4 linked regions of the Homo sapiens genome follow. The protein of the gene in region 4 purifies or fractionates together with the protein of the main gene of each other region. This does not show direct contact. Each region holds a gene or a part of one and is shown on either strand. Other genes may lie near its edges. The genes, in order: CLTCL1, NEDD1, KLHL15 and C10orf88.

Evidence for each region.
Region 1: the proteins of C10orf88 (region 4) and CLTCL1 purify together in Homo sapiens (co-immunoprecipitation; 2 studies listed by BioGRID and IntAct, with this or other methods). This does not show direct contact.
Region 2: the proteins of C10orf88 (region 4) and NEDD1 purify together in Homo sapiens (co-immunoprecipitation; 4 studies listed by BioGRID and IntAct, with this or other methods). This does not show direct contact.
Region 3: the proteins of C10orf88 (region 4) and KLHL15 purify together in Homo sapiens (affinity purification with mass spectrometry; 2 studies listed by BioGRID and IntAct, with this or other methods). This does not show direct contact.

What each region holds. Positions count from the first base shown.
Region 1 is NC_000022.11:19,177,985-19,184,104, forward strand, and holds the end of CLTCL1 (clathrin heavy chain 2), read right to left. Parts: intron 5,628-6,120; coding exon 5,406-5,627; intron 2,823-5,405; coding exon 2,747-2,822; intron 2,255-2,746; coding exon 2,235-2,254; 3' UTR 2,215-2,234; intron 1,986-2,214; 3' UTR 1,489-1,985; downstream 1-1,488. Other genes in the region: SLC25A1 (tricarboxylate transport protein, mitochondrial), read right to left, coding at 1-57, 149-371. UniProt on the Homo sapiens protein: Clathrin is the major protein of the polyhedral coat of coated pits and vesicles. Two different adapter protein complexes link the clathrin lattice either to the plasma membrane or to the trans-Golgi network.
Region 2 is NC_000012.12:96,930,876-96,939,248, forward strand, and holds part of NEDD1 (protein NEDD1), read left to right. Parts: intron 1-4,100; coding exon 4,101-4,330; intron 4,331-5,735; coding exon 5,736-5,937; intron 5,938-6,322; coding exon 6,323-6,518; intron 6,519-8,373. UniProt on the Homo sapiens protein: Required for mitosis progression. Promotes the nucleation of microtubules from the spindle.
Region 3 is NC_000023.11:24,002,574-24,010,946, reverse strand, and holds part of KLHL15 (kelch-like protein 15), read left to right. Parts: intron 1-4,246; 5' UTR 4,247-4,253; coding exon 4,254-4,958; intron 4,959-8,373. UniProt on the Homo sapiens protein: Substrate-specific adapter for CUL3 E3 ubiquitin-protein ligase complex.
Region 4 is NC_000010.11:122,950,747-122,960,042, forward strand, and holds the start of C10orf88 (ATPase PAAT), read right to left. Parts: upstream 3,482-9,296; 5' UTR 3,433-3,481; coding exon 3,269-3,432; intron 2,287-3,268; coding exon 2,083-2,286; intron 1,281-2,082; coding exon 1,208-1,280; intron 1-1,207. UniProt on the Homo sapiens protein: ATPase that regulates mitochondrial ABC transporters ABCB7, ABCB8/MITOSUR and ABCB10. Regulates mitochondrial ferric concentration and heme biosynthesis and plays a role in the maintenance of mitochondrial homeostasis and cell survival.

The sequences.
Region 1 (6,120 bases), on a different chromosome or scaffold from region 4:
GGCCGCGGTACAGGCCCAGGACGCCATGGCTGCGAACCGTCTGCCGCACGCAGTCCCCTGGGGGAGGGGGCGGTCAGGACCCCACGGCCCTCGGTGCCGCCGCCCTGGGTACCCGCCCCCCGCGGCGCCGCGGCCTCCCCCTCCTCACCGATGCCCCGGTACCGCGGCGGGTGCGAGCGCTCGTCCAGCTGCAGCTGCGTCTTCACGTACTCGGTGGGGAAGGTGATGCAGATCTCGATGCCACCCGCCAGGCCGCCTGCAGGGACCGGGAACCCGCTCCTGAGACTCCCGCCCGGCCGCTGGCGCTCGGGCCCCTCCCCCGTCCCGGACTTCGGTCGGCGCGGCCGCCGCGCCAGTGCCGCGGGGAACATAGGCTGGGGCCCCACGCCCCCATGCCCTCACCCCGTTGTCCCGGCGAGGCGCAGGGGGTGACAGACGGGAGGCGGGCGAGTCCCAGCGCGCCGGGTGGGGACCAGGACCGCGCCTCCACGACTCCCCAGCCCACGGCCCAACCCGGAAGTGGGGCGGGGCCTCAGCGTCCCGGGCCCACCCAGAAGCGCGGCGGGAGAGGGGTCCGCGTCCCGGAGGGGCCCACCTGCCAGGATCGCCTTCCCCGGGTGCGTCAGCTTGGCCTTCCCGGACGCGGGCGCGGCGGCCGCCAGAGCGCGCGGGGCGCGGGGCGCGGGCATGGCGGGCGGGAGGCGGGGCGCCCTGTGGCGGCTTCGGGTCCGAGACTCCAGAACTCCGCGCTCGGTCCGCGGTGGCGGCGGCGGCCGGTTATGGTCCCAGGGGCGGGGCGGCCGCGTCAGCTCCAGGTCCCGCCCCGCGTGGTCCGAGCCAGGCCCCGCCCCCAGCCCGCCCCGTGCGGGCCGGGAAACTGAGGCCTGGGCGGGGCGCGCCGAGGCAGGCGTAGGGGCGGGGCCAAAGCGCAGCCAATGGCCGAGGCCGAGTCCCTGGGCGACCGCGAGCGGCGGGACGGGGGCGGGGCTGCGGGAGGCGGAGCCGTGGCCCAGCTCCGAGCAGTGGGTCAAGGTGCACTGTGTGCCGCGCCGCGGGATAGCGGGCCTCGGGTCTGCGCGACTGTCGAGAGCGGCGGGATCCCCAGGGATCCCGGAGGCCAGGGGCACACCCTCCCCGAAAACACGTGGGGCTAGCCCAGTCCCAGAGGAACTCTAACGTTTCAAACCTGGAGGCGGGAGGCGGGAGGCCGGTGAGAAGGGGCTACGCCGCCGGGCCCCCCTCCCGCAGCAGCCACGGGCCGGGCCTCACCTGCCGGTTCCCACCCACACCTTTCCCGGTTGTAGTTTCTGCGCTCAGCGAACAAGGTCAGGAAAGACCACAAATGCAAGCGGCTGTATTCTCCTAGGCAGCTTGTCTGGGCAACGGAGGTCCCACACCCCAAAGAGGACCCAGCAAATCTTTAATGGACTGCGGGGCCTAGGAAACTGGCCCGTCCCTCCTACCCATACCAGCACCAAGCAGAGCACCTTTGCCTGGATAAACCGACTTTAATATTTATGATTGCCAAGAGGCTGAGAGTCCTTTTATGAGGTCCGGTACCTCCAAACAAGACGTGTTCATGTAGTCTTCAAACTGGCCTGGAGGGGGCAGCTCCAGCCAGTCGGAGGCGCCCAGGAGGAAGGCCTGGCTCCAGCAGGAGGGCCCACAGTCCAGTCTCTGTTGTCGGCTAAAGCTGGTCTTGCGCCGTCAGCCTCTACCCTGGCCTCCCCAGGCTCTGGGATGGCTCAGAGGTTGCCGTCATTGGGTTTCAGCAAAAATAAATATTGTCCAGGTGTCCCTGCCTCCCATTGCGTCCCCTGTGCTGCTGGAGTGACATGCTCCTTGGAGAAGTTAGTAACTCTGCAGGTAGGGTGGGTGGTGACAACGCCCACTACACGCGGAAGTTGTACATTGGAGGCTGGCGAAGTTGGGAGCAGAGGCATATCCATAGGGGAAGCTGGCAGGGGCTGGGCCCACGGCAGGGCCTGCAGAGGGGGAAGCCCACAATGAGCAGAGCTCTTCCTGCCCATGGGGGTCCTCTCCTGGCTGCCCCTGAGTAGCCCGGGGCCCAGGGAGCAGGGTCTATAGGACCAGCCCTTACCACCCAGACGCTGAGGCCCCAAGAGAGCAGGCATCCAGAGGCAAGGAGCGTGGGGTCAGCCAGAGAACCTGGCCTGGCTAGAGGATAAGCTAGTCTCCAAATGGGACACTTACTTAGTGCAATCAGCTGGGTCTCATTCATGCCCATCAAAATCTAAAAAAACCAGAATGACATTAATGGTGGAAGGACACACTCAGCCGGACGCTGGAGACCCGCCGGCGTGCTGCACACTCACACCACACCCTCAGGCCTGTGTTTGCCCCACAGTGTCCAAGCACCCCACAGCCTCTCCAGTCTGCTCGACAGCCAGGCTGCCCTGGGCAGGTTCTCAGGTGCAAAGCCCCTCCCAGCACACACCAGCAGCAGCCTTGCTGTCCAGGGGCCAGGCCCAGCAGGACACAGCAGTAGTTCACAGCTAGGCAGGCACCCCTATCAGAAGGCAGGCATCCTTACAGCAGGGAGGACAGCGGCCGTGCCAACATTCCTGGGCGTACACTTCTCCACACCCAGTAGCCACTGGGATCCTTCCAGCCCCCACCCATCTATTCCCATCCCCATCCAAAGCCCAGCCAGGTAAGGGCAGTGGGACTTTGACTCCCTCCCTGCTCCCTCCCCAGGGGGTTGGGGGCTACAGGTGCCACCTACCAAACACGAGAGGGGCAGGCTCTGTCACATGCTCCTCTTGCTTGCGCAGACTCTCCAAGGCATCCAGTTTGTCCACCTGCAAGGAGGCAAAAGCACGTGAGCACCCGCTTGACAGAGTGCAGTCCGGCCTCTAGGTGAAAGTGGAGTGGAAGGTCAGGACACAGGGCCTCCAGGAGAATGACAGTGGAGGAGGTGCACATGGGCAGATGTGGAGTGGCTCAGCCCACACCCCATGCACTTTTAGAATGCAGCAAGGCATGGAGAGGTGAAGCCTCGGTAGCTGGGCTGAGATGGAACGCCAGGTGGGGCCCCCAGAGCTTCCCAGTGGGCACTGGGGCAGTCAGTTGTTACAGGCTGTGCATGTGGCCTGCTTATGGGGGGCCAAGTCCTCCTCTGGATACAGGGACACTGCCACTTACCGACCTGCAGGGCTGGGGCCATGTGCAGGGAACACTGTCTGCTTCTGGCTCTGGCCAGTCTAGTTTGCCCGCCCCTCCAAACCAGCAGAGAGATCATGTGGCTCTCAGAGACAAGTCACCTGGCACCTAGACACTTCACCTGAGAAGCACTGAGGACAAACTGCCTCCTCACTCTTCCCTGAGGCTTCACCAGGCACTGACCCCACCCACTGCCAGAGAGCGAGGCGGCAGCACTGCACTAGAGGGGCGGCAGCAACTGTGCAGCTAGGATCCCCTCACAAACACACTGAGTAAGAAAGAGAAATAAGAATGTGCCCCCCATGAGCTGGGGTCTGGGGGGGGCTGAGAAATGAGGAGGAAGCAGGGGGCACACTTGCTGACACCTAGGGTGAGGGCTGAGCTAGGCCTGTACCCTCCCTACAATGGGAGAGCGCTGGGGGCGTCTCAGAGGGATGGCCCTCAAGCTTCCCAGATGAGCCACGAGGCCCCAGGCCCAGCTGTCCACCAGGAAAGGACTGTGCTTCTTGTCCGCGCCCTCATTCTCCCAGCACTGCTGTGTGGTGTCAGCTGAGCACCAGCTCAAGCTGACAATCAGCTCACACCCCCATGCCACTGACTGGGAAACCCCTTGCCAGCCCCCTCCTCTCCTTGAACTCTCCCCATGACAGGCGTCTCATCTGCCCCAGCAGGAATAGGTGGGTGGCAGCAGAGAAGGTGCTCCAGCAGCCACCACCTCCCAGGGCCAGTGGAGTCTGGGAACCCTGGGCCAAGGCTGTGCAGCCACAGTGTGGACCAACGTGATAGTGGCTGCTAACTCCATCATCCGCAACAGAAAGGGAATGTGCGCCTCAAAGTCCTGGGGGATCCCCACAAGCACTTTGACCCCCACAGCAATGACACTCCCTAGGGCCTGGTGAGCCTGAGTTCCTCTGACACTAACCCACGGGCCTCTACTGCCAGGAAGAGATTCAAGCACTTTCTTTCCTTGTGCTGGTTCTCAGAACACAGACTACTTTCAGGAAAGACACCCGAGGGATGGGAAAACCTGCTCATCATGGTGACAGCAGCTTCCACAGGCACGCACCAGACACCGCACACCACACACTGCATACCACAAACCACATACCACACGTGCCGCCTGTAGGGAGTTGCCATCCACTGTGGTGGGGGAACCAGGGCCCTTGTCAATCCAACCAGTCCATGTCCCCTGGCAGCCCACGAATCTCAGGCCACGTAGCCAGGGCTGTCCCTTCCTCCCCAACCCTTGAGAGTCATCAGGGAGTCTCACTCAGGCATGCTATGCAGATGGGATGGGGTCACACTGTCCTACAGGAGGGCAACGGCCTTGAATGGACTCTGGGATGGCCTTTATCAGGGGCTGGGCAGCCCCCTGGAGGCTCTGCAGGCGGCAGGCAGCCCTCCAGGCTAAAGCTGGCAGCATGAGCCCGCCTTCCTGTTTCCTTCCTACCTCCCACTCACCTGGGAGGCCCCTCCCTTCCCTCGCTCCACTGAGTGATGCTTCAGCATGAGTGCCTTCCGAGGCTCTCCATCTGGCTTGAAGGAGGTTAGATAGGCAAGTAGATGCTACTGGAAGTAGCTTTTCCAGTGTTAGAAACAACAAACTGTACCAGATGACACTGCTGACACAGGTCTCTGGACAGTGGCTAAAGCTAGATCCCAGCAGGGACTCCTAGGACTTCAACACCCAGGGAGAGTTTTACAATCAAGTACTGTCACTTCGATGAGGCAGAGAGTCATCCTCCCTATAGCTGTTAGAAGGATTCAGTGGATCTGTGAATACTCCTACTATGTGTTCAGCAAAAGGCAGCTACCACCAACCGTATGCTAACAGCTGCACCCCCAGACGCCACTGGGAGCTCCTCAGGGAGCTGGGATTGCCAGCCACCTCACTGTCACCTTGTTGAAGTCCAGGGCTGGGGATGAGCACGCCTGTTGTGCTCCTAGCAGTGTGCACATTGGGACAGCTGCCCAGCCAGAGTCTACAGGAGGGCTGCTGCCAGTGGGCACTCCCCATGATGATTTTCTGGAGGGGCTTAACGTTGGGCAGAAAACCACTTCAGCATGAAGGAAAGCAGCCACTCCTGAAGGCAGCCAGGGCTGGCTGGGGAATCTGGGTTGGCCTCAAAGGGGCCCACCCTTAAGACCTGCGGCCAGAGTCACTGCCAGGGTTGGGTCATGCCACACAGGGGCCGGGGAGCTGCAGCCGGCCCGGCACCTACCTTGCTCAGGTACTCCCTCATCACCTGGATGAAGTAGGGCATGGCCAAGTCCACGAGGTTGTGCCTCCAGGCCAGCTCAAGCACCATGTCTGGGCGAAGCAGGTCATAGCAGGTGAAGAGACAAGCTGCGAAGCACTCCCTCTTGCCTTCCTCCAGGAACCACTGCAGCAACTTCTGGGCCAGCTCAGCATCCCGCGACTCTGCAGCATGCTGCATGGCATCCTGCAGCCAAGGCAAATGCTTGCTTGGGCATCCTGCAGGCAGAGGCTTTGTGCCTGCAGCAGCTGGGCCGGAGGGCAGGGAGTGGCACTAGACTCCACCAAGGACTTCCTGCGCTGTGGAGCAAGCCTGGACCCATGGCTGGGCCATTCCCTATGCCCTGCTGCCCACTGGTGAAACGGAGATGCCACCTCCGGAGGCTCTGGAGGGGACAGGTGGCTCACGGAGGCGCAGGTGCCCTGGGAGACAGGAACTCTAGCCCCGAGGGCAGAGGGCGTGCACAGGCTGCTCTGAGGAAGGCACTGATGGGAGTTTGGGGGTTGTGGGGCTGCTGCAGAGGTGCTGCACTCAGGTCCATGGAGCGTGTGACACCAGGGGAGCAGTTAGGAGGGGTACGGCTACTGCTCTAGAAACAGCAATGTGTTTTTCTTTCAAGTGGCTCAAAAACCCCTAACTGCTATTTTCATCCTTGCAAATGTATTTGTCTAAGACAATA
Region 2 (8,373 bases), on a different chromosome or scaffold from region 4:
CAGAAACTCTGCCACCACCATAACCAGTAACTTCTCAGAGACCTCCCATTGAAAGGATTTTAAGCAAAAGACAAATATGTTGAGATTTTTCAGGTTTGAAGATGTTAGTTACTGCAACAGAGTGCAGGATGGATAGTAAGCCACTGAGAATGGAAATGGGATAACTATGTAGTGGCTTAGGTGACAGATGATTTGTGCTTGATGTAAGGCCCTGGGAATCAAGAAGATAGGATGGAGTCAAAGGAACACTATATTTATGGCCATATATATGTGTGTATGTTCATATGTATGTTAAGATGTTTGTATTAATTTCTTACTGCTTTATAGTGCCTAGTAAGAAAATGATGTGAATGTATGTTCTTATCTGTGCAAAGGGAAGGCTTTTCTAAGCATAAATATAAAGAAGTATAGTTATAAGTCACTGGCAACAAGTTTGATAAATATAAATATATAAAAATTTAAAACTTCTGACAAAAAGCAAGGCAAAAATTCACAAAATTTAAATGAAATAGGGAAGGTATTTACAATGTATGAGAGCAGTTGCAATGTAAGAGCAGTTGCAAATTAGTATTTTAAAAATCTTCATAGCCCAATAGAAAATAGGCAAAGTAGAATAATGAGCAGTTTGCAAAAGAAGAAAGACAAATAGTCATTTCATATTTTCAACTGAGAACCTTTAAGGCATGAACATCAATGAATTACAATTTTTTTCATAAATTAACAGTTTTAAAAAAGGATAGTAATCAGAGTACTTGCAAATCAGAAGTAACCCAAATGTCTAACATGATATTATTTAGGTAAATTAGTATACTCATGCATTCATATCTTAAACAGCTATTAAAATCAAGTAGAAAACATTGACATGGCTGTTTATAATGAAGTATGATTCCAGGTTTTCTGTTGATACTCTACTGAATACACAGAAGCATACATACACACAGAAAAATACTTAAAGGATACCCCCTCAAAATGTCAACCACTTTTTCTCTGGGTAGTGGGATTATGGATGGTTTTTCTTCTTTGTGATAAAAAAAATTTTTTTCTATTAAATAATTATCTTAGTAGAGACTGAAAAACTATAACCTATGGTCTAGCCAACTTATTTTTGTAAAGTTTATTGGAACACAGCCATGCTTTTCATCTATATATTGTCTGTAACTACTTCTAAATAAGTTTTTGAAACCTTCCCCCCACCTTTAGTGAGTGGTATGTTTTTTATATTTAGAAACAATCTCCCTCCTCCACAAACATGCAACATTCTTACACAATAATGTGGTATAAGAAAAAATAGCATTGCTGCTTATACTGCCGGGATTTTTTCCCCCCCATAAGCTTCTTGATTTAATTCTTTTCTTATAAATAATTTAGTCTGGAACAAGATAGGGAGTTAATGACTTAAGTGCTGCTGATACTGAAATAAGTTAATATTTATTTTAAATATAATTTGGAGGCCAGGTGCGGTGGCTCACACCTGTAATCCCAGCACTTTGGGAAGCTGAGGCAGGTGGAGTGCTTGAGTCCAGGAGTTTGAGACCAGCCTGGGCAAAATGGCAAAATCCTGTCTCTTAAAAAAAAAAAAAAAAAAAAAATATATATATATATATATATATATAAAATGCACACACACAAGTAAATATATTTATATATATAAATTATATATATATAATTTAGTAAATCAGTGTTTTGTTTATCCAGGATTCTTAGCTAATATCTTAATGATATTCTAAAGAGAAGATTTAACAGATATAGAAAGTTAAGAAATGAAATTCTGTTAGTATTATCACAGAAATAATTGGAGACATTTAAAGAATTCAATGTGGTTACTTAAGGGTCTTTTAAAAAATATGTAAAAGATGGTTGAATGGTGGGTACATAAGCAATGATGAGCAAGTAAGTTATGAACTTCTGGAAATGGTGATGGCTACTGTGTACCTGATTCTGTACAGAAATGCTATTTAATCCTCAAAATAATTGTGTCAGGAAAACAAGAGTGTTTTCTATTATGTAGATGAGAACGCTGAGTTTTGGAGAGTTTAAGTAATTCACCTAAATCATACAGAGGTTTGCTGAGCGTCCACTGAACTTAGGTTTATCTGAAGGGAACATTTATCATTATCTTTAGCCTTTTTTTTTTTTTTTTTAAATAGTCTGCCATGTAGGTCCCAAGAACTTGAAGTAAGATACAGAATTTAGGTTTTGTCTTGATCAAGAATACATTTTTAACTGGTTATCAAGTTGTGTTAAAGACAGTGGTAAGCTCCTTGTTGTTTGATAGATGCAAACAGATTCTGGATAACCATGTTTTAAGGATGTTGTAGGAAAATTCCTGCTGTTGCTAAGAGGTTAAACTTTATGAACTTCGAGAATCTACCAGGTCTGTGATTTTTATGGTGTTTTTAAAAATTCTACTTGTGTATTTAGTCTAAATTTAGATCATGTGAAGGACGATAACTATATGAACTCCTAAAGTGCTGTAGAAATCTTTTTAGAAATCATGTTTTGCCTTATATTTTGATATGTTGTGTATGACTCTGTAATCATTAACATAATGCACTAAGTAGGTCTGTGTCTTTTATATAGTTAACATTCATGTAGTTTATTTTTTCTTGAATATGGACCAGAGAAAAGATTTGACTATTCAAGTGGATATACTTTTTCCCAACAAAAATAAAAATTATATAAACCAACATTTTCTCTTTGTACTTTAGCCATATGAAAATGGGCAAATTTAATGGGTTAACATATTAATTGTCTTAACTTAGGTGCCAGGTGACTAATAACTCCTTTTTGTTTTTTTTTCTTAGCATTTGGTTTCTGTATTTCCTAGACATTTTTTGTTGTTGTTGAGAGCTAATATATATTATTTGAGACATTTTAGAATTAAGTAGAATATAAATTCATAGGGAAAAATTAGCTTAAATGTAAAGTACTTAATTTTCCGCCTAGTAAATGACAACATCAATACAAGTTTGACAGTAACATTTTAGTAAAAAAGAAAAGTAGATAAAATTCAGTTAGTTTTAGTCTAAGATCAGTTTATTCAAACTAGATCTTTGTTTATTCTGGTCCATGGAAGCTAGGAAGAGAGAATATCTCCACTACCTGCAGGGATTTGTGTTTAGAGAAAGGCCAGCATTGCCCTCAGGCTAATGGTTTTGAAACAATGGATATAGTCCATCCCCAGTCTAGAGTGTTGCCAGTTTTTCCTTTGTGGTTTAATTTTTTTTTAAATTATGCTTCAGGTGTTGAATTGTCAGTGCATCAGATGCTCAGATTCAAACAAATGTATCAAAATATCTAAAATATAGAAAACAAATACAAAATATTATTGCTTTTTTTTTTTCTCCCAGTATTCCCTTATACTTGTTGATTTGACTGTGACAAGGCCTTTTATATATGGTGGATGTTCTAACCCTGATGAATTAATGTAGATAATCTCAATGTATTATATTTTTCCTCTGAAAGGAGAAGATTGAGGTAGCTATACTCCAAGATAATAAAATGACAAATATTAATAGGCTATTGATTGGTATGTTTCAGGTATTGGTATGTCATCTTATGGTCCACTGAATGACACCGTGGTTGTCATGATTGAAATTTGTTACCCTTTCTTTTCTTTTCTTTTCTTTTTTTTTTTTAAGACAGAGTTGGGTTTTTTTGTTTTGTTTTGTTTTGTTTTTAAGACAGAGTCTCACTCTGTCGCCCAGGCTGGAGTACAATAGTGTGATCTTGGCTCACTGCAGCCTCCACCTCCTAGGTTCAAGTGGTTCTCTTGCCTCAGCCTCCCAAGTAGCTGTAATTACAGGCGCCTGCCACCATGCCCAGCTAATTTTTGTATTTTTAATAAAGATGGGGTTTCACTAGGTTGGGCAGGCTGGTCTTGAACGCCTGACCTCAGATGATCCACCTGCCTCGGCCTCCCAAAGTGCTGGGATTACAGGCGTGAGCCACCACGTCTGGCTGAAACCTGTCACTCTTACACATCAGAGAAATCCTAAACCCCATGTGAATAGTGTGGTTGGCCATAATTTATATGGCTTATATCAAATGTCCTTATGAATGCTTATAATTACATAAAATTTATTCTTTCATTTTTATAGTCTGTTCGGCACTTGAAGTACTCCTTGTTTAAGAAATCACTACTGGGCAGTGTTTCGGATAATGGAATAGTAACTCTCTGGGATGTAAATAGTCAGAGTCCATACCATAACTTTGACAGTGTACACAAAGCTCCAGCGTCAGGCATCTGTTTTTCTCCTGTCAATGAATTGCTCTTTGTAACCATAGGCTTGGATAAAAGAATCATCCTCTATGACACTTCAAGTAAGAAGTAAGTGTGACATGCTTATTTCTTAATTTAGTAACAAATAGCTATTATTCCATTAACAGGCATATTTGTGATTTATATAGACCTCTGATTAGTGTCCAGGGGTCCTAAAGTTTGTACAGTTGATGGATCTAGTAAGAAAGAATTTTCTTCTTATGCAGAAAGAAATAGATGGGTTGCAGGTAGTATTTAGGGTACTTCTGAAACATGAACATAGAGAGATGACATCTTAATGATTTCACATTTTAATTTTAGCATCTTTTCCACAATATGATAAAATGCATATGTTTTTAACCCAAATGATTAATTTGCTTTAAAACTGATTAATTATCTAGAGGAAGGTTTAGAAACGATTGACATTTTGGGCTGGGTAATTCTTTGTTGTGAGGGGCTGTCCTGGGTATTGTAGGATATTCATCAGCATCCCTGGCCTCTGCTTACTAAATACCAATGGCCTAAATTGTGTCCAGACATTGTCAGATGTCCCCTGGTAGTAACCAGGGACAACCTGGGAGCACCCACTTGAGAAATACTGATTATGTACTGGTGTACATAATCCTCTAAGCATTTGGGCCCACTGTACCCTCTTCTTGTTAAATTTAGGTATGCTTAGTTAGCTAAAAAACAAAAACAAAAACAAAAGAATGCAAGAGTGATACAGTTGTATTCAAGATGCTTACCACTGTCTGTAGATCATGTGGAGTATGAATGTTACTACAAGGGAAGGTCCCACTGTCAGCCTTTATTATGATGCTAGAATTTTTACTGTTAGGACTTATTTGCTGTCTTCTTTTATGGAACAATTTACTGAGAGCCCAGTAAGCCATTCTTCTTTTCTACTATACACACCAGTAAAGAGCTCAGCTTCAGCAGATCACCATCCGTATTTCTTTATTAGCTTCCTAAGGATCAAGCATGTGAACTGTGTTCCTCTTAGCTTTTTGGCCAAGACTGTACAACTAAGAACAAAGTAACAGCTGCTCCCCTGTGAAAGGTCATAGTCCTCATGAGGCCTAAGCAGGTCAATAAATGGAAAGTGGATACTTAGGCCCTCCTCAACCATGAGGCCAGAGCCCCTGTTTGTGGCGTAATAGACAGTTCTGCTACATTCACTGTCAGAGTAATAATTAAAGAAATAGGTGCTGCTTCTATAAGATGCAGAATGTACCTATTGGAAGTGAATAGAAAAGTAAGATGGAATGTTTAGCAGTTCTCTATATGCCATTTTATTAGAAATGTCTCTAAGTCAAATTCTGAAATTATGCTTTAAACAAATATTTGGGATATGTGTGCTCTTTGACCAGTTTGAAGTGTTAATAACTCTGGTTTTGGTATATAGTTACTTATATAAGCTAATATACCTGTACACACTAACATTTCTACACATACTTTGTTCTCCTTTCCAAAGGCTAGTGAAAACTTTAGTGGCTGACACTCCTCTAACTGCGGTAGATTTCATGCCTGATGGAGCCACTTTGGCTATTGGATCTTCCCGGGGGAAAATATATCAATATGATTTAAGAATGTTGAAATCACCAGTTAAGACCATCAGTGCTCACAAGACATCTGTGCAGTGTATAGCATTTCAGTACTCCACTGTTCTTACTAAGGTGAGACATTTTCTTTTCAGCATTTTTTATTTTATTAAATAAATCTAACTCAGAATATGGAAATTATATGTGGTCAATTAAACAGTATAGTTTTGTTTCATAATTACATAATGATTTTACATGTAATGTATAATAATTTTAGTACAAAGCCATTTGATATTTAGTTTTAAAACTTTTTTTCTTTTTTTTTTCTCCTTATATATCTCTCTTTTTAAAAGTATTTTAAAAGACATTTTAATTTAGAGGGAAACTCAGGTCTGCCAGCAAGCTTAAGATTTGCAAGGAAAAAAATATATTTTTTAATCTAACAGGGAATTTATAAAATATTAATGTATAGTATGAAACATTAGTAACCTGAGCTTTTAAATATTCCATTACATTTCAGTCAAGTTTAAATAAAGGCTGTTCAAATAAGCCCACAACAGTGAACAAACGAAGTGTTAATGTGAATGCTGCTAGTGGAGGAGTTCAGAATTCCGGAATTGTCAGAGAAGCACCTGCCACGTCCATTGCCACAGTTCTACCACAACCTATGACATCAGCTATGGGGAAAGGAACAGTTGCTGTTCAAGAAAAAGCAGGTAAATGTTGCTTATATATTGTTGGAGGGTTGGTTTGTTTTTTTTTTGTTTTTTTGTTTTTGGCTTGCATATAATTAGCACATTCTTCAAGAACATAGAACTCAAATTTATTTGAGTACTTAGGTAAAATTAGTAGAAGTGAAAATCATTGAAGAAGTGAAAATAGTAACTTTGGCTATTAATTTCAAAAATGATAAAAGGCCCTTATTGTTTAGCTAAACTTCTCTTGTGAGAAATATTGTCTTAAAAATGGAAGGAGGCTAACTCAGAAATTATTCATCCTTAATACTACTAAAGACTGAATGGCTTTTCATTGTGTCTTCAGATTAACCAGTAGAAAATATGAAACTTTGACACTGTCTTATGATTTGATCTCATTAAATAAAAATAAATGAGAATGTTGCAATTTCTAATGATTTCTTCTTCTCTCATGTAATTGGCGAAACAGTTCTGAAACAGGATTCATTTAGACTTTATTGATGTGTTATATGATAAGCTTTCTCTTATTGTAGAAAATATTTCTTGCTCACAATAAAAAAATATTCTGTAAATTCCTGAAAACCTTTTCATTTTTATTTTAAGAAGTTATGCTATACTGTCAACGTGCAACAAATACTTTAGAAAGTCTACATGGTATACTAGTATGTTTCTGAAATATTGTGCTTAGTAGAAATACATATATCCATGTCTTTTAAATTTTTCAGGATAAATACTTGGGCAAAAATATTTATTGGTGTTTTTTTTTAGCATGATTTTGCTATTTCCAAGTAGAAGCAAAACTTTAATTTGTTGATCTTGATAGTGTGGAGTAGTATTTTAAAGTAAGTATATTCACTATAAATTTCCTGTGAATATCTGTATCATCCTTATATAAGAGCCATTATATATTAGGAAAATAATTAAGTTCTTATTTAGGAACTCCTGGAGACAAAGACAACTGATATCTACTTAAGGAAGAAATTATTTTTGAAATATAACTTTGAGTAATGTCTGCCAACATGTTGAATTAACTATATTATGAAAATTATCTTTTTTCAAAATTTTCAAAAATTAAACAAAATAAAGATTCTCTCATTCACTGTAAACTCTCTGAAGTCTCTCCATTATTCATTTAGTTTTATAGTAAGAAGGCTCTTGTTTAACAAAGACAGCATTAATTTGCAAATCAAAGGCTTGGATCTTTCAGGGTCATGGATTAACGATAACTCTTGGTAGATTCCCAACATTTCTGGCAAAGTGAGTGCTCTGCCCCCACAAAATTAACAATGTTTGTGTATTAATTGTATTTTGAAATGATTGTCATCTTACAGAAAAGTTTTAAGAATAGTACAGATAACTCCTGAGCATTACCCTTTGGCAGATGCACTTTATAAATTTTGCCACATTTGCTTCATCATTCTCTTTCTCTTCCTCTCTCTGTCTCTCATTCTCTCTCTCTCTCTCACACACACACACATTTTTCTTTGCCTCTGAAACATTGAGAATAGTAGACTCAGTCTCAGATCTGTCACTTCCGGCCAGGATGCTTTTAGGCAATTCTCTTAACCTTTCTGGGTCTCATTTTTTTCCTGTACACATTTAAGATGACATTTAACTGTTAGGGTTATTGTGAAAATCAGATAAAATGTATTGGAAGTACCTGGCACATGGTAGGCACTCAGTACACTATGGTGTTGATACTATCATTGTGGTCATCATGATCATCACTATTATTATTTTAAGCTTTGTATAAAATTAAAGTTCAGAAAAAAATTCTGTTGCTTCTATTGAAGTTGTCCTGATTCAGTTATTTCAAAGAACTTCTCTAAACTTGTTATTGGTACTTAGTTTTAGAAGGAAATCACCATTTAAGAAG
Region 3 (8,373 bases), on a different chromosome or scaffold from region 4:
TCCCAAATGGCACTCATCTCCATACCTAACACAGTACCTGGCACACACAAGGGCTCTTCCTTTTAGTAAATGAAATGGGAAGGCATTGACAGAGTGGTGACACTGGCAGTGACAGCCTCCCTAAAGAAGGAGGTGTAGAGCAAGTGACAGCAGTTGACTGTAGTGTCCGCTGCTTCTCTGGAGGGCTCGGGGTCCATATAAATACCTAACCAGGGGAAGGACAGAACTTGGGAGATTGGGTCCCAGCAGTGTCACTGGTGGAAATTCAGAGCCGTAGATGTTGGCTGCCACATCCTTAGTGCTCTTTTAGGCTAGTGTGGTTTGTAGGTCATGTTCTAGAAAATAGCTGCAACATATGATTCCAAGTCATGAGATATTCTAGAAAGTGCTTAAAAATGGCTGTAGTATCCCAGAGATTTGTCCATATCTGCTGTCCTTAGTTTGGGAACATCTTTGATAGTGCTTCAGTGTTATACCAGCAGGGAATGCCTCACAACTGTTCGGTGGACGAAACTGCCAAGAGGCACTGAAGATTGGCCCAAGATTAAAGGACCAGTTGGCATAGTTTTTGTTTAGCAGGGCAGGGATGGAGGACAGGCAGAGAGTTAAGGGAAATGAAGGCCCTGGTAAGAAAGTGGTTGCTCTGATATGGTAAGGTCTAAGCTGGAGAAGGACAGAGGTTAAGTTAGGAGATGATAGACCAAGTGAAAAGAGAGTAGGAAGGTTAAGTAGGAAGTTGACAGTTAAGATTTCAGATGTAGACCAGTTTTGGATCAGGAACAGGTCCAAGTGGGGTGGGAGTAGGGTTTGCAATGGAATAAGTGGGGAGGTTGTAGGAGTTGAGATGGTCAGGGAGTTTTGACTTACAGTTTTTGGATGGCTGATCTTATGTGAACATTGAAGAGGTGTGAAAGATGACTTAGCCAGGTGTTGAAGTCTTTTTTTTTTTTTTTTTTTGAGATGGAGTCTTGCTCTGTTGCCCAGGCTGGAGTGCAGTGGTGCGATCTTGGCTCACTGCAGCCTCCGTCTCCCAGGTTCCAGCGATTCTCCTGCCTCAGCCTCCCAAGTAGCTGGGATTACATGTGCCAGCCACCACACCCAGCTAATTTTGGTATTTTTAGTAGAGAGGAGGTTTCTCCATGTTGGCCAGGCTGGTCTTGAACTCCTGACCTCAGGTGATACACCCTCCTCAGCCTCCCAAAGTGTTGGAATTACGGGCGTGAGCCACTGAGCCCGGCTTTTTTTTTTTTTTTTTTTTTTGAAAATGGAACCTCGCTCTGTCGCCCAGGCTGGAGTGCAGTGGTGCAGTCTTGGCTCACTGTGACCTCCACCTGCTGGGTTCAGGAGATTTCTCCTGTCTCAGCCTCCGGAGTAGCTAGGACTACAGGCGCCCGCTACCATGTGCGGCTAATTTTTGTATTTGTTTTGTATTTTATTTTATTTATTTTGAGACGGAGTTTCACTCTTGTCGCCCAGGCTGGAGTGCAGTGGTGCAATCTCAGCTCACTGCAACCTCCGCCTCCCGGGTTCAAGTGATTCTCCTGCCTCAGCCTCCCGAGTAGCTGGGATTACAGATGCCCGCCACCATGCCTGGTTAATTTTTATATTTTTAGTAGAGATGGGGTTTCACCATGTTGGCCAGGCTGGTCTCAAACTCCTGACCTTCAGGTGATCCACCCATCTCGGCCTCCCAAAGTGTTGGGATTACAGGCATGAGCCACCACGCCCGGCCTTTAATTTTTGTATTTTTAGTAGAGACAGGGTTTTACCATGTTGCCCAGGCTGGTCTTGAACTCCTGATCTCAAGTGATCCGCCTGCCTCAGCCTCCCAAAGTGCTGGGATTACAGGTGTGAGCCACCATGCCTGGCCCAGGTGTTGAAGTCTTCATCAAATGTTTGAGAGTGATTGATCAGAAGATGTGTATGGAAGTGACAAGGGGTGACAGAAGATGGATTTTTATCTGAGCAAAAGGCCAAGTTATAGAAAAAGAACAATAGAAAGCTAAGAGAAAGAAGACTTGGAAAGTAGGGCTGTAAGCTCTAAAAGTTTTTTTTTTGTTTTGTTTTTTTTTTTTCTAACACGCGTGGGAGTAGAGCTAGAGGTTGGAGGCAGGAGGCCTGGAAGCTGTGACTTTTAGGAAAACTATGTCTCATTTAAATCAGGTCGAGGAGGGAACTTTCTGTGACCAACCTGAGCATGTAGGGGATTTTGTTTACATTGAAGTAAGGTTCCACAGGGCACAGTGGAAAGGTTTGGGAGAGAATTCAGGGATGGAGGATGGGTCATTGGGGAGGAAGCCGGGAGCTGTGTAAGGATGAGAATTAAGAAGATAGATGGTCTGGGGTGGGGGTATGTGAAAAGGAGAAAATTAATTTGCTTCATAAATAACCCAGTAGACTGAATTAGTGGCCAGGCGCAGTGGCTCACGCCTGTAACCCCACCACTTTGGAAGGCCGAGTCAGACGGATCATCTGAGGTCAGGAGTTTTAGACCAGCCTAGCCAACATGGCGAAACCTGTCTTCACTAAAAATACAAAAATTAGCTGGGCGTGTAGCAGGTGCCTGTAGTCCCAGCTACTCGGGAGGCTGAGGCACAAGAATCGCTTGAACCCGGGAGGCGGAGGTTGTAGTGAGCCGAGATTGTGCCACTGCACTCCAGCCTGGATGACAGAGCAAGACTCCGAAAACAAAAAAATAGACTGAATTAGTTTATTCCGCTGTATTTAAGATATCTAATTATAGTTCTCTATTTTACCTTCATTTCTCTGATATGGAAAGATTTGGTTTAATTTCCTTTAAAATTATATATTTGTATTTTTAAATATATAAGCATTACATCATTATTGTTTTTCAAAGTAAGGGTAATGAGGTAAATGAAAAGAAAGCCTCTCCTGAAAACCTACTACCCAGGGACATTATTTTGGTATATATTTCTCCAGACTTTTTCTCATCTAACAAATATATGCGTATTTAGTTTTCGAAGACGTACTCAGTATACTGCAGTCACTTGTTTTTTTTTTCATACAATATCTGATAAATATTCTTTGTAAAAATAAACTGTTGACATCATTTTAAATTGATAATTTATTGTAGGACTGTATCATGTTTTAATAATTTGTTATTGGACTTTTGAATAGTTTCTGATTTTTAAATAATAAGCCTAGATAGAAAAACCTTATATGTACAACTTGCCTATTTATTTGAATATTTCCTTTAGGTAAATTTCTAGGAGTTTTCAGGTATACTTTTTAGTTTCATTTTTGTCCCTTTTCTCATTATTTAGTATTTGGCTGTGAAATCATTTTTATGTTGCTAATTTTGGAACCTGTTCAAAGTATATTTGATGAACAATATGAAATCAATGGAATAGGCATATATTATTTGTAAGATAACAATTTACCATTGTTTGATATATATATATATATATATATATATATTTTTTTTTTTTTTTTTTGGAAATGGGGTCTTGCTGTCTCCCAGGCTGGCATGTAGTGGCATGATCTTGGCTCACTGCAACCTCCGTCTCCCGAGTTCAAGCGATTCTCCTGTCTTGGCCTCCTGAGTAGCTGGGACTATAGGTGCATGCCACCACACCTGGCTACTTTTTGTATTTTTAGTAGAGTTGGAGTTTCATCGTATTGATCAGGCTGGTCTTGAACTCCTGACCTCAGGTGATCCACCCACTTCGGCCTCCCAAAGTGCTGGGATTACAGGTGTGAGCCACCGCGCCCAGCCGACATATATATTTTTAAGAGATAGGGTCGTGCTCTGTTGCCCAGGCTGGAGTGCAGTGGTGCTATCATAGCTCACTGTAGCCTCAAACTCGTGGGCTGAAGGGAATCTCCCACCTCAGCCTCTGAAGAAGCTGGGGCTGCTGGCAATGTGCCACCATGCCCAGCTACTTTTTTTTTTATTGTTATTATTTTGTAGAGACAGGGATTTGCCATCTTGCCTAGGCTGGTCTCCAACTCCTGGGCTCAAGCGATCTTCCTGCCTTGGCCTCCCAAAGTGCTGGGGTTATAGGCATGAACTATTGATGTATCTTTAATAGATTCTTTTCCTTAGATAGGGAAGCCAGAAATATTAGTCTGCAAACCTTTAGATTGTCTTCTCCCAAAGGACTTGTACATTTTGGACTTAGTCAGTAGAATTGAGATAATAGCAAAAATTGTTAAAACTCTAAGTTAATATTTTCTTCTGAATGCATGGAAGTGTTTAACATTGTTGTCTTTGATTTTTTTCCAGGTGATTCATGGCAGGGGACGTGGAAGGATTCTGTTCCTCCATCCACGACACCAGTGTCTCTGCTGGGTTCAGAGCACTGTATGAGGAGGGATTGCTTCTTGATGTCACTCTGGTTATTGAAGATCATCAGTTCCAGGCCCATAAAGCACTCTTGGCCACCCAGAGTGATTACTTCAGAATTATGTTTACTGCAGACATGAGGGAACGAGATCAGGACAAAATTCATTTAAAAGGTCTAACAGCTACCGGTTTCAGCCATGTCCTGCAATTTATGTACTATGGAACTATAGAGCTGAGTATGAATACCGTTCATGAGATTCTTCAGGCTGCCATGTATGTTCAACTTATAGAAGTGGTGAAGTTCTGCTGCTCTTTTCTCTTAGCGAAGATCTGCCTAGAAAATTGTGCAGAAATTATGAGACTCTTAGATGATTTCGGCGTAAACATCGAGGGAGTCAGGGAGAAGTTAGACACCTTTCTGCTAGACAACTTTGTGCCACTCATGTCTAGGCCTGACTTTCTGTCCTATCTGAGCTTTGAGAAGCTCATGTCTTACTTGGATAATGATCATCTGAGCAGGTTCCCAGAGATAGAGCTGTACGAGGCTGTGCAGTCTTGGCTGCGGCATGATAGAAGACGCTGGAGACATACCGATACCATCATTCAGAATATCCGGTTTTGCTTGATGACCCCAACCAGCGTTTTTGAGAAGGTTAGTGCATTTGAAAGCAATAGACAGTACTCATCATTTAGTTAAGGCAGTGTATGTCTTTATAGATAAGATTCACAGACTTAAGAGCCAAGAATGAATAACTTCATTTTGTTATTTCTTATGTTATTCAAGAATGAATAACATAAGAGTACTTTATGTATAAGAAGCCTGATTTGTTGTGCATTTAGGTTTTGTAAAATACATTTTGTGGGTGAAAGATAAACCACGTAGGTAGTAAAACAGTTTTATTTTAAAAGTACTTTTAAAGTTGAAGCATAATTACTTTATGCAAAATATTACATGTTTGCTGTAGCTTTTCTTTTCATTTCATCAATTAAATCGGAACCGAGTCAGGCTAGATCTCTTTTTAAAAATAAATTTAAGTAATACATGCAGAAATTGGCATTGAGAAGAGTTCTGCATGGTATACATTAATAGAGTTTCTTATTCCTCTAAAATATAGCAAGGACGTACAAAATAGCTCTTGAAAACCAATAGGCCCTAATGGTGATTTTCTTCCCTGCTCTTACCTTCTGGTTTTCCCCGTTTTACTGTGAATACTAACTAAATTTGACAATGAAAACATGTTATATGTCTAAAAACATCATTTTGGCATTTCTAAACAAGTAGACTATAACTCTTCTATCTACATTGATCAACCATCCCTGGGCACATTTTACCATGCAAATAGTTCTCTTAAAAATAGTCTTTCTCTGAAACAGCCTTGGCCTTTTTTTGCATGTAAGCATTTTCATTTTTATATCAGAGTTTCACTTGTGATCCTTTCTTGCCCAAAGGTCATAGAGCACTTTTAGTAATTGCTTAACTTAATTGGTTTCTAATCACATGGTTACCTCTGGGGCTCTGTTTACTTCTTGCATCTTCTCTTTTTTCTAGAAAGCACACTGAAAACTTGGTCGGTCACTTTTCATGTTAAATAGTTCCTCAGCTTTAGTTATTAGACCTGGTTATAAAAATACAGTATCTGCAAAGGAGGGTTGTCTACGCCATTTGAAAAATAAACCCATTTGCGCCTTTGAATAACAGCAGCCTGACATATTTTTTTTTCCTCCAAAATGCTGTGAAACTGAGAATTCAGTTTTGTGGATTTTTGTCTTTTATTCTCAATGTATTGATGTGGCAGAAATAATTGAAACTAAATTATATATATGTATGTATGTATTTTTTTTTTTTTTTTTGAGACAGAGTCTCGCTCTGTCGCCCAGGCTAGAGTACAGTGGCGTGATCTTGGCTCGCTGCAAACTCTGCCTCCCAGGTTCAAGCGATTCTCTTGCCTCAGCCTCCCGAGTAGCTGGGATTACAGGCGTCAGCCACTGTGCCTGGCTAATTTTTGTGTTTTAGTAGAGACAGGGTTTCATCATCTTGGCCAGGCTGGTCTCGAACTCCTGACCTCATGATCCACCCGCCTTGGCCTCCCAAAGTGCTGGGATTACAGGCGTGAGCCACCCCACCCAGCCAATAATGTATTTCTTTTATTTTTTGTTTAGTGATAATCAGCCCCACATCAATTATGTAAATCATTTGTCTCTGATGTTTTGATTTTTTTCCTATTGTTTTTATTGCTCTTTTTCCCTGGGGAATCCTGTTTTGTTTTGTTTTTGTTTGTTTTGTTTTGTTTTGAGAGGAGTCTCACTCTGGCCCTGGAGTGCAGTGCTGCGATCTCAGCTCACTGCAGCCTCCACCTCCTGGGTTCCAGCAATTCTCATGCCTCAGCCTCCCGAGTAGCTGGGATTACAGTTACCCACCACCATGCCTGGCTAATTTTTTGTGTGTGGAGATTCTTAATTCTTCCTTTGGTAGTAACAGATTTGAACAGTGACTTAATAGTGTAGGGAAGGGGGCATTCTGCCTCAACCCAAGGAAAAGCCCCCATTCGTTCTAGGGACACAAGTCATGTCCTCTAGCTGTGCTGAAATCTTTGGGTTTATCCTTCTGCAGTATCTATGTAGTCCTCTACTGGATTTTCTCCTTAGGTGAAGATAAGATTGTCTTAACTTTTTTTTTTTTTTTAGTATACTTTTTTCTTTTTTAATATTTAACTTTTTTTTGTAGAGATAGGGTCTCACTGTTGTCCAGGCTGGTCTTGAGCTGGCCTGAAGTGATCCTCGTGCCTCGGCCTCCCAGAGTGCTGGGATTATAGATGTGAGCCACCGTGCCTGGCCAGATTGTCTTAATTTTTGTACTAAGTATTCTGTGGGACCATCATCGAAGAGGCCAAGGCTTCCAAATTTCCTGAGTTCCTTAGAGGCAGCAATACTGTTTATCTGAACACTGCATGTGCACACGAGCACACACACACACACACACACACACACACACATATATTTATGCTAGGTCATGTACTAAGTGCTCTTACCGTACATATAGGTAGCATCTACATGGTTTTTTTTTGTTTTTTTTTTTTTGGTTTTTTTTGAGACGGAGTCTCACTCTGTTGCCCAGGCTGGAGTGCGGTGGCACGATCTAGGCTCACTGCAAGCTCTGCCTCTCAGGTTCACGCCATTCTCCTGCCTCAGCCTCCTGAGTAGCTGGGACTACAGGCACCCGCCACCACGCCCGGCTAATTTTTTTGCATTTTTTTTTTTTAGTAGAGACGGGGTTTCACTGTGTTAGCCAGGATGGTCTTGATCTCCTGACCTCGTGATCCGCCTGCCTCGGCCTCCCAAAATGCTGGGATTACAGGGGTGAGCCACCGCGCCTGGCCATGCATCTACATGTTATCCCCATTTTATAGATAAGGAAACAGGCACAGAAAGGTTAAGGATCTTATTCCAGACCAAGTGGCACTGTCCAGACTGAAAGCCAGGGCAGCTGCTTCCCAATCTGGGACTTCCTGTTACAGCTAATAGAATAGGGAGAAGACCCTAAAGTGCAGGAAGCATGCTGTTAACCTGTGGCCTAGCTTGGGTCATTCTGAAGTTGTTAAAGAGCTATGAAAATTCTAAGCTGTTTGCATTAACAAAACATAGCCTAAGGGCAAGTGTATGTTACAGAGTTGTAAAAATTCTAAGGTGTTTACATGAGCAAAACATAGCCGAAGGGCTAGGAAGGGTGGTTTACGCCTATAATCCCAGCACTTTGGGAATCCTAGGCAGGAGGATTATTTGAGCCCAGGAGTTGGGGAACAGCCTAGGCAAAGTAGGCAAACCTATCTCTACAAAAAATGTAAAAATTATTTGGGTGTGGGGGCACATGCCTGGAGTCCCAGCTACTGGGGAGTTTGAGGTGGGAGGGATTGCTTGAGCCCAGGAGGTCGAGGTTGCAGTGAGCCACGGTCGTGCCACTGCCTTCCAGCTGGGCGATAAAAGTGAGAACCTGTTCCCCCCAATCCCCTACCCCACCCCATCCAAAAAAAAAAAAAAAACATAGCCTAGGAAATTTAATGGCACTGAAA
Region 4 (9,296 bases):
ACTGGTATAGTACCTGACATTAAGAGGCACTCAAATCTTTGTTGAATGAAGAAATTACTTTATTCAAATGGTTTTAGAAGCTATTTAATATATACTATCCAAAACAACATCTTGGGATAATCAGTCCTGTGAGTTTGCTATCTGCCTGTAAAAATCACTTATTTTTTCTTATTGTAAAAATAGGTTTCAATCTTCTATAAGTAATGATAATAAGTACAGAAGTTTAGAGATAAAAAGAATCCAAGAATTTTCTTCAGCTCTCTAATTTTACCCATGAGATAGGTCCAAAATCTGCCCAAGACTAATCCACTAGTCAGGACAGAACTGAATTAGCATTCAGGGCTTAAGACTTCCAATCCATTACCTTATCCCTAGACTCTGAAGACATAACTAACAGTTACCTTAACAATATTTTTCATGCTGAAGACAACAGTCCAATCCCTTTAACTTATTGGTTCTCTTGCTTGAAACTTCTCTAATTTTGTTCTTTTATAAATGGGTTTTTGCCATCACAGTTTATATAGTTTTTAAAAATGTTTTTTGCTCAATTTCCCAACACTTCAAAATACACAGCACTACCATATTAACAATACATTATCCAAGGTTAATAAATAGTCAAATTTTATTTTTATTATTTTTTTAGTGAGATGGGGTTTCACTCTGTTGCCCAGGTTGGTCTTGAACTCCTGGGCTTGAGCAATCCTCCCACCTCAGCCTCCTGAGTAACTGGGATTATAAACATGTACCACTGCACGTGGCTCATGGTTAAATTTTAAGAGAAAAAGTCTACTCACTGGTCACCGGGTGAAAAATTTAAAAAAAAAAAAATTTCTTAATTCAATGTTAAAAAGGGCTGATAATTTTTTAGAAAAGTAATTTCTTTGTACATGTTTACTAAGTATTTCTGAGCCTCATCTCTACTAAAAATTTAAAAAATTTGCCAGGCATGGTGGTGTATGCCTGTAGTCCCAGCTACTTGGGAGGCTGAGGTAGGAAGTTAGCTTGAGCTGGGAGATGACGTTGCAGTGAGCCATGATTGTCCCACTGCACTCCAGCCTGGGCAACAGAGCAAGATACTGTCTTGAAAAGAAAAAAAAAAGCAAGCAAGCAAGTTGGACTAATTGTATTACTAATCCAAAAGAAAACAAGCATACACAGAGTACAAAAACAACTTAGTTGTCAAATTAGTTTACAACTGACAACTTACCTTTATTTTACAAGCATGTGTGGAGGACTCCAATTTTAGATTTTTTTTATACAAAATGATCTTTTCATGTTCACTAAAAATAAAAAAGAATTAATTTTTTTTACTTACATATATTGTCACTTTTAATAGTTACACTTAAAAATAAATGTTTCCAGAACAATATTGAAATCCTAAGATTCAGTTTTCCTGGTGAGGCATGAAGAGTTGGGCTCCATAACTGAAGCACACTGCCTATGATTACATCTACCACTTACTAGGCTCAATGAGAAAATTACATTATATAACATATGTACAACCATGTAGCCAGACTGTATTTTAAAGCTCAATAAACACAGCAATTGTTTCCAACATGCAGGATATAAAACAGTTCATATTTTGTGTTAAAGACAGATTGGAGAAAAATCTTCGTAAGAAAAAAAATCACAAGTTGCGTTACAGGTTAATAAATAGGTTTATGTAGCACAGTCTTAGATCCCTCCACCATTTCTAATAGGCTTCCAAGAAGAAAATGTATTCAAAGTTCCAGACTGACTACCAAATTAACTTTCGGAAGACAGACTGCTGTGAGTTTAAGGAAAGAGACACACTTCTCAAAATTTCATTCTAATAAAACTCTTCCACTAACTAGCTATGACCTCCTACCAATTCACCTTGATTGTTAGTTCTAAATTTCAACATTTATAAAAATAACTAGGCTGATCTACACTGTCTTTTAAGATCTCTAAAGTTGTAAACTTCTATGCCTACTGGCACATTTTTATCTTCTCTCCCATAACATATGGTATCAATATCAGAGAATCAATAATTATTGCAAAAAGTGAGAAAAATCAAAACACTACTTCAGAAGAACACTTTCCCGTGTACAAGTCACACACCTGTCATCCAGGACAGTACAAACATTCTTGCCCCTACTGGTTCCACAGTACTCCTCTCCTAAGTACACTTCCATATTTCTTGCTGAACTTAAAATGCCAATAGAAGCGATTTCTTCACCTCCATCAGGGCCACACCTCAGGTAAAGGAAGCAGGGGTTTTCATCTTTGTTGTTGTGGTTTCTCTTCAAAATCACCAGATCCTGACTGAGAAGAAAATTGGTGAAAACATCACACAGTATAGTTCTCTGAACATGACTCTTCTTTTTTGAGACGGAGTCTGGCTCTGTCGCCCAGGCTGGAATGCAGTGGCTCCATCTCGGCTCACTGCACGCTCCGCCTTCCGGGTTCACGCCATTCTCCTGCCTCAGCCTCCCAAGCAGCTGGGACTACAGGCACCCGCCACCGCGCCCGGCTAATTTTTTGTATTTTTCGTAGAGACGGGGTTTCGCCGTGTTAGCCAGGATGGTCTTGATCTCCTGACGTCGTGATCCGCCCGCCTCGGCCTCCCAAAGTGCTGGGATTACAGGTGTGAGCCACCGTGCCCGGCCGGGGCTTCTTTCTTCTAACTCACTTCCACTTGCCCTTGAGGTCCAAGCACCTTCCCAAGCATCCAAGAAGCGCTCAACACAGAATTCATACGGAAATGAAGGTGTCACACATCAGGGCTTTCCCAAACTCTATTTTTTCCTCAATCAACATTCTACTCAATCCCCTGCAATTGACTCTCGGATAATTACATAAATCACTGGGCACCTACTGGGTGCAGGGCACAATGAAAGACAAAAGTGTATCTTTTTCGAAATTAAGTCGACAGCGATCATCTATAGCTGGACTTTTTACACAGCCTGTTTTGGTGGACAGGAGGTGTCTTGTTTGAGGGTAGAGGGGCGGACTGACTTTGACAGCAGCCCTGAGGGGCTATCACGCCTGATGGGGACGTTATATGAAATTCCGAGTCCGGGTCACCTTCCCCCTCTCACGCCCAGGAGCCTCGGCCCCTTCCCGGCCGGACCCACCCCCCTCCGCCCACCCCGGACGACCTCGCAGCTCCCCTCCCCAACTAGAGACCTGGTACCAACTGCTCTCCCGGATCCCGGGCTCAGACCCTCTCGCCTCCCCTCACAGCTCCCCTAGAAGCGCGGCAGTTGCCGAGCATAGCGACCCCGTCCCCGTCGGCCCGGCGCACCCTGGAGCAGGCGGTGCCAGCAGCTCCTCCCAGTCGAAGTCACCGGGGCCGAGACCGGCCCGGGTGAGGAGGAGGCTGTGGGTCAGGGCCCCGCCTGCAACATCCCAAGAAGAGGCCAGCGTGGGGCGGCGGGTGAGGCCCCCGTCCTCGGTCCGCGTCTCCATTCCGCCGCCTTCAGTCAGGCCAGCCCAGCCCCGGAACCTCTCTTCCAGTGCTTGAATTTCCGCCGGTACAGCGTGGAAATGGGCAGGCAAAGCGACTTCCGGCTCACTCCGCTTCAAGTACCCGCCGCTTCTTGCTTTGGTGGGGAGAGCAGGCACCAGAGACACGCATGCGCATGTGCCAGCTGGCCTCAGGCGCGGCGTTCAAAGTGTGCGGGGAGGAGGTCGAGAGCGGAGCATGCGCACTGGCAGACCCTTGCTCTTTCGCTGGAGACTATGCGCAGGCGCGGTGCACTGCGCGCCGGCACGAGGGTGTTTTCGACGTTGGCTGTGGGGAAACAGCAAGCGGCGTGGACGACCGTTGCTGAGCTGGTGTGGAACGTCTGTGATCAGGTAGGTGTAGTCTCGTCGCTCTACGCTGCGTGCAAGACCGACTCCTGACCTCGTTCTTTCCCAAGGGGACGCCAGGGCCTTTTCTGCTTCCATTCCGTCGGATCTGCAGCATTTGTGGCAGCTAGCGCGGCGGACGCGCTGCCGATTCGGGTTATTTTTACTTCGAATTCTCCTAGCCTCCCTCACACATATTCTCGCTTTAGAGGGGGGCTGAAGCGGATGATGGGGTTTTGGGGTTGAAGGGCATCTGTGATGGGCATTGAGCCACGCTGGCCTTCGCCGGGTGCTGTCTCAGCTGACGCCCCCTGACCCCATGTGCAACCCTCAGGCCGCAGGAACCCGGGCATCCAGGGCTGGACGCTCTAGGTGACAGAAATTTGAAATGCAAGAAAGACCCAGACACCGAAGGCAGGGGCTGCCCCATGAGATCGCTCCTCATGGCACTGGAAACAGCGAGTGGAAAGGGGGGGTCTCAGAACTCTGTTGAAGTAGAATATGAACTCAGTCTTGAAGGAACTTAAGGCTACGGATGCAGAACAGTGGGAGCAGATGGAACTTTCTAGATGCCCCACGGGATGGGACTGTATATAGTGTGCCCCCTCATCCTCCTCCTGTAGAGGCTTGTGCAGATTATTTTTCTGTCTTTTGAAAAAAGCAAACTCTGAAATTCCACTTGTCTATAATCTAGAGTTCCAAAGTTGTGTTTAAGGTGGTATCCTCTCTAGGAAATAACGTTTTTGCTCACCCATACTCTAATTTTCTTTCAGAGCTGTCTATTCTGGGTTCATGACTCAGTGCGCATTACTTTAATCTTTTTGCTTATGTTTTCGTTTGAGTTTATGTACTAGGACTTGTGCCCTCTAGCTAAAAATGAGAATAAACTTTGCATTCTGTTTACCTGTGTCAAAGCAAGAAAAATGATGACCAAATGTATTTTTCTATAAGTAATCACCAGAATGTACGTATGGTAGGTGAATTCACCAAGATTGAAAGAGAGAAATGTCACCAAAGGTCTATCATAGCAGAATTGTAAAGTCCTCGTTTGCAAAGATTTTTTTAATATTTCAGACTCATTCTAAGTTGTCCTTGTCATTATTTTTGTCCTGTATGTCCTGCTTCCTGTGGTTGTAAGTTAACTTTGATCCACATTAATACATGTGGACAATCCGAAGGAAAATAGGCTCTTCAGAAACTAATCTGCAATTTCATGAGCAATAGCAATATTATAAACTGGATTTTGACTTCCTTAAATAAAGCTGAATGTCCAGGAATCAGAAAACAAAAGATTCCTATGGTCTATCCTTTCCTTTATTTCCATACAGCCAATAAACCACCAAGTCTTCATTTTCTTAAAGAAAAATTTTCCTATCTCTGCTTCTTCTGTTTCCAAGCACTAGCTTTATCTGAACAATTCCAGGAGTTTGTCAGTAGCTTTCATTTTGATTCCTTCCATTTCAGTCTTTGCACTGCCCTCTTCTCCTTCTGGTGATCAATGTTCCTGACTGAATCAACACCTTCACTCCTTAGCATAGCATGCAGAGTCCTTTGTACTTTGAACCCTGCCTACCTTCCAGTTTCCTCTACCTAGAATGCCATTTTTTTCAATAGTAGGAAAAATCCTATTTATCATGCGAAACCAAGCTTACTTCATCCTGCTACAGAATTAAACAAATTCCTCTGTGCTACAATTACCACTTTTTTAGGTAGTATAATTCTCCTTTGATGTCAGACTTTGCCTGTTTATATATCTGTGTTCCCTACTATCTGCATGCTTGCTGAGATAGACATTATGTTGAGTACAGGTTTGTTGTATGGAATTGATAGGTTGGTGACAGCTTTTATCACATAAACTAAGAGCAGCAGAAAAAGGAAAATTAGTACATTCAATCTTAAGCTTTTTTCCAAAGCCAGGATGGTTATGGTTCAAAGCTGACTTCAATCTTAATATGATACATTATTCTTGTCATGAATTACAAGTGAGTTTTTTGCTTTACTTTTCTCTTTGAAGTAAATCAGAAAATATAGTTGGTGATATGGTTGGCTGTGTCCCCACCCAAATGTCATCTTGAATTGTGGCTCCCATAATTCCCACTTGTTGTGGGAGGGACCCCGTGGGAGATAACTGAATGGTGGGGGCAGTTTCCCCCATACTGTTCTCGTGGTAGTGAATAAGTCTTGGGAGATCTGATGGTTTTATAAGGGGAAGCGCCTTTCGCTTCGCTCTCATTCTCTCTTTCCTCTGCCTTGCTCTTCTGCCATGATTGTGAGGCCTCCCCAACCAACCACATGGAACTGTGAGTCCATTAAACCTTGTCTTTATAAATTACCCAGTATCAGGTATGTCTTTATCAGCAGCGTGAAGATGGCTAATACAGTTGGAAATTTCCCACCAGTAATGATATGCAAGAACTCAATATTTAGGAGCATATTTCAAATCTGTTTTCAGAATATGAGCCAACGCACATTTGAAAGGTACATTTTAGAAAAAAGTAACTTAGGATACTAATTTTCTTGAGCACATTCATTTAGTAATGCCACAGTTTAGATGTTTTGACTATCTTAAGTAGATTGAGTTCTTACTATATATGCCCTGCCTTTTACACAGGAGTATACTTCCCAGCAAGGTGGTTATAGGAACTTAACTTCCTTCTCAGGACCACTTGAGTTGTACCTTCTCTCCTCCTTTCCCTCTCTTCTGGTCCTTGCAGGTCCCACAGTTGCCAGGAATTCCTTCTCACCCTGCCTCAATACAGGGCCTGCAATTTTAACAGAGTGGAAAAGAACAACCTTCCTATCTTTTTCTCCCAACTTCATTTATAGCTGCTTTCTACCTCATTTTAACTAGAACCTCTGTTCTAGTTAGAAACATTGTTAGACTGTATATCATTTTCAATACAACCTTTCTGAGGAAATGTAGAAATGCTGCAGAAGCTCTCGAACTAGAGCTGAATCTGTGCCCGCATCCATGATTATCACCTGTATGACGCTTTCTTATCCTAAAACTCTTATGCAATAGTCGATGGCCATACCACCCTGAACATGCCCAATCTTGTCTAAAACTGTTATGCAATAAAGGGTTAACTCAGGAAGTCTGGGAGGTTCAAACCCTGCAGCTTCCAAAGAAGTTGGCTCTTGACCAGCTCTGGGAAGATGACCGCTAACCTATTGGAATGTCCTGCCTGATAAGAGTGTCTTTGTATACCTAGCTAGCTTATATCAACAGTGTGATTTATATAGTAAGGCCACACTTGAGACACACTCTGTCAGTTTGATCTCTGGAGCTCAATTTTAAATAATTATTTAAAATTAAATAAATAATACTCTATACCTATCTAGATACAAAGAAAGGTTTTTCAGGGTGAGGTAGGTGGGAATCACATAACCATATCTTGCTGCTAACTGTGGGCTTTATAACAGAGTTCCTTAACACTTCGGTTTCAGAACCCTTTTACACCTTTATAGCTTTCTAATTAAAAAATCAACAACATTGTTCTTGAGTCTGTAGTAACGTACACTAATAGGAATGAGTACTTAAAGAATGGATTGAAAAGATAACCACTGGGTCCCTCCCACAACAAGTGGGAATTATGGGAGCTACAATTCAAGATGACATTTGGGTGGGGACATAGCCAAACCATATCACCAACTATATTTTATGGTTTATTTAAAAGGGAAAAAGGAAAAATCCACTCCAGCTTCAGGACACCTGGCTTAAAATAAACTTTCTTAATGGACCCATTTCGTAAAAATGGTTTTATCCTGTTTCCTTGGGAACTTGGCAATAACTTAGAGGGTTTTAGAGTCTTAAAGGAAGGTCTGGGTGAATAAACTCTTTTTTTATGTTAACAAAGGAAAATAGCATCCAAGCTAAATCAGCTGTAGGATTTGTTATGTTTCGTTATGCATTCATGGCACTTGCACCTTCAGAAGAAGTAACTCATCAAAAATTCTGCATAATATGCTGTCAACTCATTTGTAATATTGCACGTTTCCTACAGAAATAATCCATCTTTGTGCAGAATGATAGAATTTTGAGGTAAGTTTATTAACATCCCTTCAGGAATATGTTGTACTGTTGGGTTGCAGGTTAAGGGGAAGCCACAGAATCCTTTTTACCAGTTTTACTTTTGATAGCCGTGCTTTTGTATACAACATACTATGATGTAGTGTAAATACACCTGACAGCAATAACTTAAGCATACCCTTAGAATGACCCTCTATGGCAGATGTACCTGAATGTGTGTTCTGAGCTAGGGAATCCAGGGCATGGCCATCTTGGGGATTCGTTTCTTATCTATGATAAACATCTGATGCCCCAGACTTTCCCGTAGAACTTGGGCAGCACAGGAGATTGAGGCCCTGAGTTTTGAGTTAGATGAAGGTTGCCAGGTAGAGGTCATTATGGGGAGATTGTTAAGTGAAAATGCTATATAAACTGCATGCTCTTTGCAGGCAGTTGTAGTTTTCATGCCCAGCCCCTGCCACTGGGCTGTGCAATTATGTTGTCTAGTCTGCCGCCACTGGACTCTCCCATTTGTAAGCCCCTAATAAAACCCATGTCTCGTTTGCTGGCTCTCGGTTTCTTCTTTAGCTTCTTGAACCTGATGCCTTCTCTAGTGAGGTTAATGGGGCTTCTGCACAACATATGAACAGCCAAATGTAAGTTTTATTAATTTTTAATTATATTTTTCTTTACTTATTGTGGACATTTTACTTTCCTCACTTTCTCTCTTCAAATCAAGTATGAGCTTTTTAAATAGCAGCAGCTGTCTTTAGTTACATGTGAATCCCCAGCATTTAATGCATTGTCTGGTACACAAATATAAAGTGAATATTGAATAAGTAACAGCCTTAAAATACAAGGCCCTCTTATTAAACTGTTAAATTGTTTATAATTACTTTATAAATTATAATAATTTATAATTATACATTTATCTTTATAATTACTTTAAACATATAACAGTGGTAGGAAGTAAGAACACAGTGAGGAAGACCAGTGGAAATCTGTGGGAACTGCTTTTTTCCAAAGTTGTGTTGAAAGCTTCAGAAACCAAGGAATTGAAACCTATTTCATCATTGTTTCTAAATAGCAGGGATTGATAATATGCAGATCCTCCATTAGCAGAGATGGATCTTGTAGCTTTGTTCTTTCCTCAGACATTTTGGTGGTTCTTAGGGTTACTGAGATTGATGATTCTTCTAGGTCTACCCGCTTTCAGCGGATTTCATAATTGCTTTTAACCTCACAATACCAGGAACAGAGTAATCTTGGGGAAATAAACACTAGATATTGTCAGATTAGTTAAAGATATAGTAATGTTTGAGTATCTGGCTCACATTTTAGGATACCTTTATTACGTTTTTATAAAAATTCAATAAGAAGATCAGACTGGTGACTTGAAAATGACATTGATGTTGAGTTTTAAAAAAAAGGAGCCAATTGGCTTATAAATTTTATATGGACCTGTATTTTG